2 separate regions of the Homo sapiens genome follow, and region 1 is linked to region 2. The links come from fine-mapping of genetic effects on gene expression. Tissue or cell type: whole blood. Region 2 holds a variant in brackets; the other region holds the start of a gene. All regions are shown on one strand. Distances are from middle to middle.

Evidence for each region. PIP is the estimated chance that this variant, and not a neighbour inherited with it, causes the effect.
Region 1: ZCCHC4 starts here. The variant in region 2 is fine-mapped to the expression of ZCCHC4 in whole blood (TOPMed, PIP above 0.99).

What each region holds. Positions count from the first base shown.
Region 1 is chr4:25,309,472-25,316,116 of GRCh38, reverse strand. It overlaps ZCCHC4 (zinc finger CCHC-type containing 4), which reads right to left and starts at 3,343. Exons shown (of 13, transcript NM_024936.3): 1 at 3,181-3,343; 2 at 1,953-2,071; 3 at 717-799. The coding sequence starts at 3,307. RefSeq lists enhancers at 3,225-3,284, 2,813-3,689, 5,277-5,416, 6,037-6,096 and silencers at 3,283-3,487, 3,495-3,564.
Region 2 is chr4:25,365,377-25,372,021 of GRCh38, reverse strand. It overlaps ZCCHC4 (zinc finger CCHC-type containing 4), which reads right to left. Exons shown (of 13, transcript NM_024936.3): 13 at 1,639-2,993. The coding sequence ends at 2,858. Among named protein-coding and RNA genes, the nearest start is that of ANAPC4, 8.6 kb to the left of the region's middle. The variant T/A (reference allele first, on the strand shown) is at 2,682.

The DNA of each region.
Region 1 (6,645 bases), 56 kb after region 2:
TTATGCTAAGTAAAATAAGCCAGACCCAAAAGGACAAATATTGTATAGTCTCACTTGTATGAGGTACACAGAATTGTCAAATTCATAGCAACAAAAATAGTCGGGCACAATGGCTCATGCCTGTAACCTTCACAGTTTGGGAGGCTGAGGTGGGCGGATCCCTTGAGCCCAGTAGTTCTAGACCAGGAGTTCTGGGCAACATAGCAAGACCTTATCTCTATAAAAAATAATAATAAATTAGCTGGGTGTGGTGGCGTGTGCCTGAAGTCCCAGCTACTCATGAGGCTGAGGTGGAGGACTGGTTGAGCCCAGGAGGTTGAGGCTATAGTGAGTCGTGACAGCACCACTGCACTTCAGCCTGGGCAACACAGAGTGAGACCCTGTCTCAAAAAAAAAAAAAAAAACACACAAAAATAAATCAGAGGTTACTAGGGTTTGGGAGGAGGTAGAATGAGGAGTTACAGCATAATGGTGGCAGTTTCTGTTTGGAGTGATGAAAAAGTTTTGCGAATAGGGGCAATGGTTACACAACAACATGAATGTACTTAATGTCACTGAATTGCACACTTGAAAATGATTAAAATGGCAAATTTTATATTATATATGTAACTACAATAAAAATAAATAAATGAAAGTAAACTTAAAGGCACAGAAAAAGGCAATAACAAAAAAAATGACAGCTAAACTAATAAAGAAAAATGACACTGCATCAGTACCTTTCCACACACTGCGTTCGGGACAGGGGAGGCTGACATCTTCGGTTATGAGCTTCTCGGGCAGCAAGTCTAGCTCCTGACAACTGAAAGAGAGTACAAAACCCATTGAATAAACTGTGAAATATCTATCATCCTAGAAGAACTGGCATCACATTCTGACATCAAGAAGTCAGAAATTCAACCAACTCAACAGGCATTCATTTCAGGAGAAAACAAAACAGCGAAAACTGGGAAAATTCTAGAGCAGCTTGAAGCAATATCCAGCATATTAAAGCACTGAGAGATTAACATATGTTCACTGTAGCATCATCCACAATAGCAAAAAGGTGGACACAAACCAAGTATTCACCTTAATGGGTCTGCAGAAGAGTGGTATATAATACTGTTTTACCATAAACCTAACAAAACTGAAAATTCTCTGGTCAAAGTTTTCAGAAACTTCAACTGGAGCCGAGTTCAAGAGGATACCAAGCTCATGACTATATCTCTAAGTGCCTTCATTGGTCATCTAATAGCTGTATAAGGGATGTTCAATGCAAATGTTCAAAAAAAGTGTTTTTTAACACTTTCTGGAATGATCATGATTTCTCTTTAGTGAGCAATCTGTATCTGCCAACGGTGCTATCGACTGAATGTTTGTGCCCCCTAAAATTCGTATGTTGAAGCCTTAACCCCAATGTGATGGTATTTAAATGAGGCGCCTTTGAGAGGTAATTACGTCAAGAGGGTAGAGCCCTCAGGAATGAGATTAGTGTCCTTCTAAGACAGACAGTGCTTGCTTCCTCTCTCTGGGAAATGAGGATATAAAGAAAGGATGACCCTCTGCAAATCAGGAAGAGGACAGGACCTACACCAGACACTAGATCTGCCAGCATCTTGATCCTGGACTTCCCAGTCTCCAGAACTGTAAGAAACAGATGTCTGTCGTTTAAGCCACACAGCCTATGGTACTTCTGTTACAGAAGCCCAAGCTAACACACAGAAGATCAGCCCCACCCAATATTACCACCTCAGAGAGTCTTATGGGGAAATAAGACTTTGAGACAGTAGTTTAAGATATCAGTAATCAGAGTAAACATGAACTCATTTTCTGAACCAACAAACATAGTATCTCCATCTCTCTTAAGAGATTTATCTTGTATGTTCAGACCGCATATTTTTATTGGTTTACACGTTCTCAACAAAATTGTCACACATACCAAAAATAAAAAATAAATATCCAAAAAGTTGATATACCTTTTCATCTTCCCACTGAAAAAAATTACAGTCTTTTCTATCTCTACAGGCTGAACAGGCATAAAACCTCCGAGTTTCTTCTTTCCCTTGGGTCACCTTTACAAACAGAAGAGTGGGTCCTAGTTCCAGAATAGAAAAAAAAAAAAAAAGTGTCAAGTAATGGTCATCTACGTCAAGTTCTTAGTTTTCGCTGCCCTTAAATAAAATTTGTTTGAGCTTTAGGCACAATTTATCATAATTAAATCCATCTCTTTGGTTGGTTGTTTTTTGTTTTGTTAGGGTTTTTTGTTTTGTTTTCTTGAGACAGGGTCTCCCTCTGTCGCCCAGGCTGAAGCGCACTGGCACAATCATGGCTCACTGAGATCCTGCTTCCTAGCCTCAAGCGATTCTCCCGCCTCAGCATCCCGAGTAGCTGGGACTACAGTTGCGTGTCCCCAGCTGTTTTTCTTTTTTTGTAGACGGAGTGTCATCATTTTTGCCCGGGCTAGTCTCAAACTCCTGGGCTCAAGCGATCAGCCCGCCTCGGCCCCCCAAGTGCTGGAACTACAGGTGCACGCCACCACGCCGGCTTCTCTGTGTTTAATGAATGTTTCTTTTCTCTCTGTTACAACATTCCGGCAGTGACTACTTATAAATAATTTTTGAAAACCGGTCTCTTCAGAAAGAAAATGCTATTGTCGGTACAGTTGCTGTCTACGTTGTGAATATTACAAACCTGAGACTAAAACAAGGAAGGGACTCAGAGAATTGAGGACTTTGACATCTCTTGCGCGGTTACCCTTGCAGTGAAAACCTGAGCTTTGAGCTGGAAACGCCCACTTTCTGTAAGTTAGAGAAAAACTGAGTCTAGTTCGCAGGCAAGAATTACACTGTTTTTCTCCCTAATTTTTTATTTTTGAAGGGAGAGCAAATCAACAAATGAAATCCCCAAGTACTTGTCAACGAGAACTATTCAATACCATGCATTCTTCTCTTTGCCTACTTTTCTGCCCCTTCCCCCCAAAAGAGATGAAATAGTCCTGGAGCCAAAACCACAAGAGTGGAGACTTGCTCTGAATGTTTCTCAAGTAAGTTGAAAAACACCGCGTTCCGAGGAAGGAGTATTTTCTAGGCAGCACACTGGTGAGGGAAAGAGGCGGGTAAAAATACAGGAGCCCCAAAAGCCACTTCCAAGCCAACTCACACCCTCAGCGCCCGGCAGTTAGGCTGAGCCCAGACTCTGACCCACCGTGAGGGCACAGCGGGGCGGGGACGGCAGGATCCAAAGGAAGCACCACCTCCATTCCCGAGCTTCCCCGGCACCCTGCGCTGCCCTCTGCCTCCACGGCTTCAAACCCATTCCTGGAGGCCGCCATCTTCCCGCCGCCGTCCCGAAAGCCTCAGTACGAAACAAGAATGCTGAGAAAGAGCGCCCCCGCGACCCAAAGCGACCCACAGCGCCCCCAGGCGCTTAGGAGGAGCTTGGGCGGGGGCTGCCGCGGCGGAGGCCACGCCCCGAAACGCAGTCCCCGCCCACCTGGGGGCTGCACCTAAGCGGCCCCTAGCGGTGGGGCTCGCAGGTCACTTGCGGGACCTGTGCCATGAGCTCAGCGCATGAAGCACCCTCCTTTCTTAAGAATATAGCCAGGAAGTGAGATGATTCGAACAAAGACTTGGTTGTATTGTAGGTCCAAAAGGCAGCATTACCACCTCTGCCAAATAGCTGAAATGGCTGCAGCAGCTGTGATTTAAGGATCATTCTTTGTTTTTCAAAGTCACAGTCACTGCATCATCCTCTGTAACTTTTGGACAATGCTGAAAGTTGCACATCATAGTTGCATACTCATTGACATTTATACATAAGAAAGAAAGAAAACCGTCCTGATTTGCAGATGACATGATTGTCCACATTTTAAAAATCCGAAAGAATCTATCAGGAAAACACCTCCGGTTTAAACTGAGTTCAGCAAGGTTGCAGGATATGAGATAAACACACAAACATCAACTGGATTTCTAAATACTAGCAATGATCACAAGAACACTAAAAAATAGAATACCACTTACAATCACTCAAATAAATGAAATAGGTGTAAATCTAACGAAATATGTACAGAGCTTTATGTATGCTAAAAACTCCAAAATGCTTGATTAAAAAAAATCAAGGCTGAGTGCAGTGGCTCACACCTGTAATCCCAGCACTTTGGGGGGCCAAGGAGGGAGGATTGCTTGAATCCAGGAGTTCGAAACCAGCCCGGGCAACAAAGCGAGACGACATCTCTAAAATAAATAAGCAATTTTTAAAGTTTTTTAAAAATCAAAGAATAGCCGGGCACGGTGGCTCACGCCTATAATCCCAGAATTTTGGGAGGCCAAGGCAGGTGGATCACAAGGTCAGGAGATCGAGACCATCCTGGCTAACACCGTGAAACCCCGTCTCTACTAAAAATACTAAAAATACAAAAACAAAAAAATTAGCCAGGCGTGGTGGCGGGCACCTGTAGTCCCAGCTACTCGGGAGGCTGAGGCAGGAGAATGGCGTGAACCCGGAAGGCGGAGCTTGCAGTGAGCCGAGATTGTGCCACTGCACTCCAGCCTGGGTGACAGAGTGAGACTCCGTCTTAAAAAAAAAAAAAAAAAATCAAAGAATAAACAAATGCAGAAACATACTGCATTCATAAATCAGAAGACTCAACATAGTAAAGATATCAGTTCTCCCCAGGTTTAATGCTTATACAGGTGTAGCACAATTGCTATGAAAATCCCAGCCAGATTCTTTTTGTACATTTAGACAATATTCTGAAATTTATATGGAAAGGCAAGGGAACTAAAATAGCTAAAACAATTTTGGAAAAAGAATAATGAAGTGGGAGGAATCAGCCTACTCAATTTCAAGTCTTATAGTGCAGTAATCAAGACGCAGCCACATGTCTATGGTTGTAGACGAAATAGTCTCTTATGTTATTTAAAGAACCATTGGGGCATGTGCCTAGTTAACTTCACACATTGAGTGCTATGGTTTATTACTGTAAAAACATGGCTGTTTTTCTTTCACATTTCATGTAATGGTTTTACTCAAATTCTCCATCTGCACCAGTAGCATCTGTATCTTTGATGTACCAGTGTCCCCTTTTTCAAGTTGTCCAGAACACTTTTTCAGTGTATATTATCTGCACATGTCTGGTCTTTTGAGATAGGAAACTTTCTACAGCTATGATGATGATACTCTCGGACACTATCTCAAGACCTAACTAGCTGGGCACACATTCTCAGGACCCCTTGAGACAGTGCCCTAGGCAGAATAAAAACTAAAAGACCTAACTACCTACTCACATGAACTCTAGCACTTTTATTTACAAATTTGTTTTAGATGTACAAATTTGTGATCTTAAAAGACTTGTTTATAAAATTTGCAAGTGAATTTGTAACTCGTAAAACCAGAGTTACTGAGTCTGTATTTCCTCTTTCTCTTTTAAATAATGCTGATTCTGTGAGGCAACCTCTCTAAGCAGCCAAAACCAGTACAGATGTGCAGCCTTTACAGATAAGCTTCCCCAAACAGTAAAAACACAACAAAGATTGATCCAAATAAGGTAAATGGGAGGGCACTGCAAAATGTGAGAGCTGCTGAAGGTTTCAAACATCAGGCCATTTTGTTTGCAGAGGGATAATTTTGGGGAGAAAAAAAACTCACCTTATTTTCAGATATATATATGGTAAATAGCCTGTGTTAAATATTTACTGATGGGATTATGAATATGACCAATAAGTTATACATGTTTCATTTAATTTCCTGATAGTGTCTTTAGTCTGCACAGGAAAATGCTTGAGTAGAAACATACTGAGAGATTCAGCAAGGTTCTGAAAGGAAGCCAGAGACAGAACTGAAAATAGGTCCCTTGAGGCCTAAGCACCAGGAGAGACCTAGATTACACTTATTGTCAGGCCTCTGAGCCCAGGCTAAGCCATCATATCCCCTACGCCCTGCACGTATACATCCAGATCGCCTGAAGCAACTGAAGATCCACAAAAGTGAAAATAGCCTTAACTGATGACATTCCACCATTGTGATGTGTTTCTGCCCCACCCTAACTGATCAATGTACTTTGTAATCTCCCCCACCCTTAAGAAGGTTCTTTGTAATTCTCCCCACCCTTGAGAAGGTACTTTGTGAGATCCACCCCCTGCCCGCAACACAGTGCTCCTAACTCCACCTCCTATCCCAAAACGTATAAGAACTAATAATAATCCACCACCCTTGGCTGACTCTCTTTTCGGACTCAGCCCGCCTGCACCCAGGTGAAATAAACAGCCTTGTTGTTCACATAAAGCCTGTTTGGTGATCTCTTCACATGGATGCATGAGACACTTATCACACAGAGCGTGGTCCCAGGCTGCTAAGATTGCTGGAACTCAGCTACTCTCCCAGCCGATTGTCTGGTCAAACTGGTGAGCTTTCTTTCTTTCTTTTTTTTAATTTTTTTTGAAACAGAGTCTCACTCTGTCGCCTAGTCTGGAGTGCAGTGGAGCAGTATTGGCTCACTGCAACCGCCACCTCCCAGGTTCAGGCAGTTCTCCTGCCTCAGCCTCCCAAGTAGCTGGGATTACAGGCACATGCCACCATGCCCAGTTAATTTTTTTTTTTTTTTTTTAGTGGAGATGGGCTTTTACCATGCTGGCCAGGCTGGTCTCGAACTCCTGACCTCGTGATCCACCC
Region 2 (6,645 bases):
ATATGGAGTGATAAACTAGTCTAGGTACTGGACTAATTAGGAAAAAACATGAAATCCAGCCTACAAAAAGACTTTGTTTCTCATTAAATTTCATAATATAAGAAGAATGAAATTTAGCTGTATTTATTAAAAATGTCCTTTTAAAAAGCTTAGAAAATGTTATCTGTCAAATTTTAGGGATTTTCTTCTATTGCTATTTTGAGAAGGTATCTTAATGTTAAGATGTTCAGATTTCTATTAAGAACAAATGACCTCATCCCGCTTCACATTCTACCTCCCAGAGACACATTTTTACAGGCTACCAATTAGTTTATTCTCTGAAAAAGGAATAGAGATTAAGTCCTTAAAATTAGTATTAATTGAATATAAGTGTAAAATCACCAAATTTCCTATTTTTAACTTTCTAAGACAGTAATAAAGTTTTAAAGTACATTATTCCTGGCTGGGTGTGGTGGCTCACGTCTGTAATCCCAGCACTTTGGGAAGCTGAGGCGGGCAGATCACCTGAGATGAGGAGTTTGAGACTCGCCTGGCCAACATGGCGAAACCCAGTCTCTACAAAAATATAAAAATTAGCCGGGTGTGGTGGCACACACCCATAATCCCAGCTACCAGGGAGGCTGAGGCACAAGAATCACTTGAACCCAGGAGGCAGAGGTTGCGGTGAGCAGAGATCCCACCACTGCATTCCAGCCTGTCCAACAAAGCAAGACTCTGTCTCAAAATAAATAAGTACATTATTCCTGATTATAACTATTTCCTCAATTCTAAGATTTTTTTTTTTTTTGCATTTCAGTATTTCTGAAATCAGATGATCTAAAAATTAATTAATGAAGTATTATTTCTCTTCTCCCCCTGAAAAGCTATGATAAAATCAATGATGTATTTTATAATTGATGGTATCTTAACATTAAGGCAATATAGTGATGAGAATAACTGTTGGCCTTCAGAACTCAATTTTTCAGTAGTCATAGTCCCTCAGGTGTCTTAGTTTCAGAGGAGATTTCAATAGATTTTATCATGGAATGGTGAACACCATAAAGTCAGGCAATGTCCCTATCCTTGCTTGAATCAGAGAGGGGAACTCTCACAACGGTTTTACAAACTTCATATCTCACCCAGTCACCTCCAAATGTGCCCCTCCTATCATAGCCCTCCATGTAACAAAAGGGAGAAGAGCTTTCTGATGCTTATGAAGTCCAGGGGTATAACTCATCTTTTGACATCAACTGATGTACACCACTGCCACACTGATCTGGGCCACACTTGAGCATTCTACACCAGGCATCAGTCCTAACTTACCTGGAATTTAAATACCAGATAGAGTGCAGTTCCTCCACCCTTACTTACAGGGCTCTGCCTAACCCCAAACAAAGATGCCTTCAAATCTGCTCTACAGCAGTTGTTTGGAAACAAGAGAAAAGTCATTATGCAAATATAAGTCATTCAAAACAATTCAGTCTTAAGGAGACAATAACTAGCACAGAAACGGGGAGATGAACTGTTTGTTCTGGGAGTTCAAATTACTGCCTTCAATGCTTTGTTATCAGGCCAAAAGGTAATTACCATTAGACCCAGTAACAATCTTCATTGTTAACCTAACACACCAATGACAGAGGAGAACTGAGAGCCAAGCACTTGGGTCTCATTTAATTTAATCACAAAACAAACCTCAGGTATAGCTGTTATTCTCCCCATTATAATAATGATAATAATGAAGAAACCGGGGCTTTTAGAGAGTGACCTGGCCAAGATCATACAGCCAGGAAATATTAAGGGTAGGAATGAGGAGTTTAGTTTGGGCGTTTAATTACCAAACTATCCTGGCTTCTGCTACGAACTACTTTTACAAAGACAGAATCTTACTGCATAGGTTAAACGACACTGGAATGACAGAGCAAGTCGTAGTTCTAAACATCTCACTCATTCAACAAGCATTTAAGTGATTCTAGACCGTCAGAGGACAACTGCAAAAAGTACTTGAAGAATAAATATTTAATAATAATGTAATTATAATTATAATCTGTATATCTAAACAGTGCCTTTGTAAAAACCCTTTCCATCATCTTCAAATTCAGTCTAAAAATAATTGTACGCTATACTTTTCAAGTGGGGTTTAAACTATTGTTTCATATTTAACATAAAATATTTTCCTATTTAAATTAACATACTTTTATGTTCACGGTAAACAAACTGCATAGGTTTTCACTTTCATTTTCTTCTGACATCTTCTGCAAAAGAATGGTCTGCCCATTTTTTGGATAAAAAGGCTAGAATAATGTGACCGGAGCTGGGTGAGGTGGCTCATGCCTGTAATCCCAGCACTTTGGGAGGCCAAGGCAGGCAAATCACTTGAGGCCAGGAGTTCGAGACCAGCCTGGCCAACATGGTGAAACCCCGTCTCTACTAAAAATACAAAAATTAGCCAGTCGTGGTGGCATGTGCCTATAATTCCAGCTACTCAGGAGGCTAAGGCAGGAGAATTGCTTGAACCCGGGAGGCAGAGGTTGCAGTGAGCTGAGGTTGTGCCATTGCACTCTAGCCTGGGAGACAGAGCAAGACTCCATCTCAAAAAAAATGAAAACATAAAAATAGAACAATGTGACTGGGAGAGACTTAAAGTGAGGAAAAATGAATGCTGAAAGAACTAGTAAACTGGCTGAAGATGGAACAACTCCCCA[T/A]GTCTCCAGAGAGGCAGATAAGGGACTGTAAACCAGCAAATGCCACCTGCCTGTTATCTAGCTCAGAAAGGTGCACACCTCTGGAAGCAGCTGAATTTAAGTCCAGTGTGGCACTTTCAGAAAATGGCATCAAAGGTTGGACCATAAATCTTTCTTATTCTCCAGTCACTGGACATTTAAGAGCCAAGATATTGATGGGCTCTTTCCCTCCTTTTCTTTCTCCTTGTAGCAGATGTATGATTCATGGATTGTCCTTTCGTGGTCTCCATTTTCATCTTATTACTTTTTCTTTGCTTCTGCTTTCTGACAGCTCTGGAAAACAAGGTGCTAAATTATTTCACAGAATGAGCACAGTGAATTATGTAATTATGTTGAAGTTTAATTAACTAGCTAACCAAATAAGAAAATAGAAGAAGGGAAAGAATCTACTGTATTGCAAGCATAAATCCTCAGTCTCCTAACCATAACAACAAGGGAAGAGTCAGAGGCCTAACCAAGCAAAATGTTTGAGAAAAAAAAATTCTTTAAAAGATGGTTACTATGGATTTAGAACAAGCTGTCCGGGGCAAACACACCACAGAGGTAAATGCAAAGCTAGTGAGATTGGACTTTTTAAAAAAGTTTTTTGTACATCTGTATTGCTCAACTCAGCACTTCAATCTCCAAATCCTTGAATTCCGTTTTTTTTGGAGAGGAGCTGATACATGGGGCAGTCAGCAGAGACAGAAAAATGAAACAGCACAATGGAAAAAACCGAGAAGCCTTGAAAGGGCCTGTTTCCTAAGTCGTACAGATTTTCCTTTCCTCAGCGGATCTAAAAGTCCTGACAAGTGCCACGCAGGGTTATCAGCATTTTGTGGTCCTTATCTTGAAGATTAGCTTCAAAATAAACAAGCTGGAACTCACCCTCTGAAAACACTGAACCACACCAGACAAAACAGATTCTTTGTTTCTGGTGTTCTCCACACTAAGTTACAGGCGACCTGCAGCTGAGAAAATGACTGGCCCATCCATTCACTTCTCCAAGCTAGCAGAATCATGCCATGACACTCAACATATTGAGAACCAAGGAAGGGGCCAGAGCTACAACAATGCCAAACCAGGACTCCTCCCCTGATTACCCAGCAATATCAATTGTTAGGTTCACCTCTCATAAGCTTCTCCATAGGAAAAGCTTATTCTTGATCTTGTCAGGAATAAACCTGGGAAAAGAGCTTCATAAACAATGTATCCCCTAATGGGTTCAATTTATGCCTCACTTTTTGTTTACTCAGCATATGTTACCTGTTGAGAAAACAAAAATGAATGGGCATAATCTTTGACTTCAAGGAGCTGGGAGACAGAGATAAGGGGGATAGTCACCCCCTCTCTATCCCTACTTTTTTAGGTGAAAATGCTATGAAATCAATGAACACCCCATGAGGAACTTGCAGAACCAGCTTGATTCCAGGATCTGTGCTCTACTATATACTCTACTTTAAATTATTTATATATGCAAACTGCTAACCATATAATAATCACTCAATAAGTATTAGCTATTATTAGTTCCACATGACTATTATGCAGAATTTTGCTTGACAACTTTAAATTTTTTCATATTTAGATTTTGCACTATGGACTAGGGATACCTTATCAGTTCAAAATAGAACAGTCTACAGAAGGAGTAGGATTGAAAACTAAAACCAAAAAAGTCATCTTTACAGTATTATACTGATTCATGCATACTATATAAATCTATTTCCCCACTTTTTTAAAGTAGGATAATTTCTTGATAAGTGATGATTTAGCAAACTTAATGAAATATAGTATAATCTCTAATGGCAAAGTCAATGAAGCCATGTGTGCCTGTACACAAAATTTAAGTTTCTCTTTGGCTCATCCACTTATAAGCAGGACTAAAAATGAATGAACTTTCACTAGGGGATACGGTAAACAGAAACAGGAGGAAAATATTTGAAAATATTCATTTGTAATATGAATACACAAAACTTTCCAGAGATAAAGTTTTTGAATGATGATGAACTGACTATAAGTCAGTTTTATTTTGTCTTAAAATTAAATTGACCTAGTATTTGTCCTTTAAATTATAGGTATTTATGTAACTGATAAAATGAGCTTTAACCACAAGAGGGAGCCAGCATCATTCCAGTTAGCAACTAAAGAAAAATTAACACCAAGGAAAAACAAATTAATATAAGATAGCTGTAAAATGCATGAGCTGGAAAGACCTTTTATGTCACGTATGCTAAAAAGGCTGTTATTTTTCACTATTGTAAAGAAAAAAATAATTTTGCTTTGTCAATTTCACTATATATATTTTTTGAAAGCAGTAACTATTAACAGGAGTTTAGGTGTCTTCTCTGAGAAAAAAAGTAATATTATTTAAGAATTATCAGGCATCCACATCTCACAGGATTTGCTCTTGGAATTAAACCTGATAAGATCTAGTCCTGAAAGATACTAGATGATTTCCCCTAATGAAATAGTATATTAGTGCCAAACACACTAGCTGAGGCTATTTAGGAAGCAATGAAGGGCCTACAATAGAGTATCAAAATGCAAATTGTTTCCATGTAAGTTCACAGAATTAAAGGCTGAGCACGTTACTGACTACCACACAGAATCACACTGACAATGGTACAGCAATCCCAGACTAATATGATTATGAAGTTGTATTCAATTTTTGAAGGTTTATTCTAAGGAAAATATTTTATAAGATTCTTCAGGCTGGGCGTGGTGGCTCACGCCTGTAATCCCAGCACTTGGGGAGGCCAAGGCAGGCAGATCACGAGGTCAGGAGATCAAGACCATCCTGGCTAACACGGCGAAACCCCGTCTCTACTAAAAAATACAAAAAGTAAGCCGGGCATGGTGGCAGGCGCCTGTAGTCCCAGCTACTAGGGAGGCTGAGGCAGGAGAATGGCATGAACCCGGGAGGCGGAGCTTACAGTGAGCCGAGATCAGGCCACTGCACTCCAGCCTGGGCGACAGAGCAAGACTCTGTCTTTAAAAAAAAAAAAAAAAAAAAAAGATTCTTCAATAAGCTTCTTTAAGTTTTTAAAACTCTACTTTATCCTGGATTACTCAGTGGAAATAATTATTTAAAGTAGAGTAAATGTAGGAACGAGGCAGTTGTAATAGTAGCCAGAATTCAAGTGGCTAGACCACAATGGAAAAAAAAATTTTCACTGACCACAAATAAATAAAACACATGGGAAAGAATTCTAATATTACCATAAATAATTATTAAACTATCAGATATTTCTAACACAAATCAATTTTTTTAAATTACAAGTCATAGTCACATGGTAGCCCAATCTGAATTTTCATATAATGTCATATAATTTCATATAATGTCAAATTTAGCTGTCTGGTAATCTCCAATTAATAACTGTGTAACATTAGTTTTCTTAGCAATAAAGGAAGAGGACTTAATCACTATCATCCCTTTTAGTTAGGAAAAAAGTATAATCATTCAAATTAGCTCGGTTAAAATAGCAATGTTTTTCTCTTTTTGTTTTGTTTTGGGGATAACTATTCCAGAAGCAGTGCCTCTTCTAAATAAGCTATTGTCATAGGTATCCCCATACTCTGAGTTGTAATCCATAGCTCCAATCAAATATTGGTGAGAGATGTGAAAATAATCACAGGAAAAAAAGTAATAAAAATTTCAAATATTTAAGCATTAAGCATGTCTAAATATTTTTCTTAAAATTTGATACAAAGAAATAGCTTTCTCACAATTTTCCTACTGTGGAATTACTTGCTATTCAATCTGAAATGCCTTCTCCAGCCTTTCCTGCCATCATGTGTCTATATCTGATCTGTCCCTCAAAGCCTGACGTAAATATCATGTCCTTCAATAAAGCATGAACTGTCACCCCCTATAACTTTACACATGAGACGTAAAGCCAAGGAGAGGTAAAATTAACCACTTTCTACCTCATATTTTGGTTATTTTCAT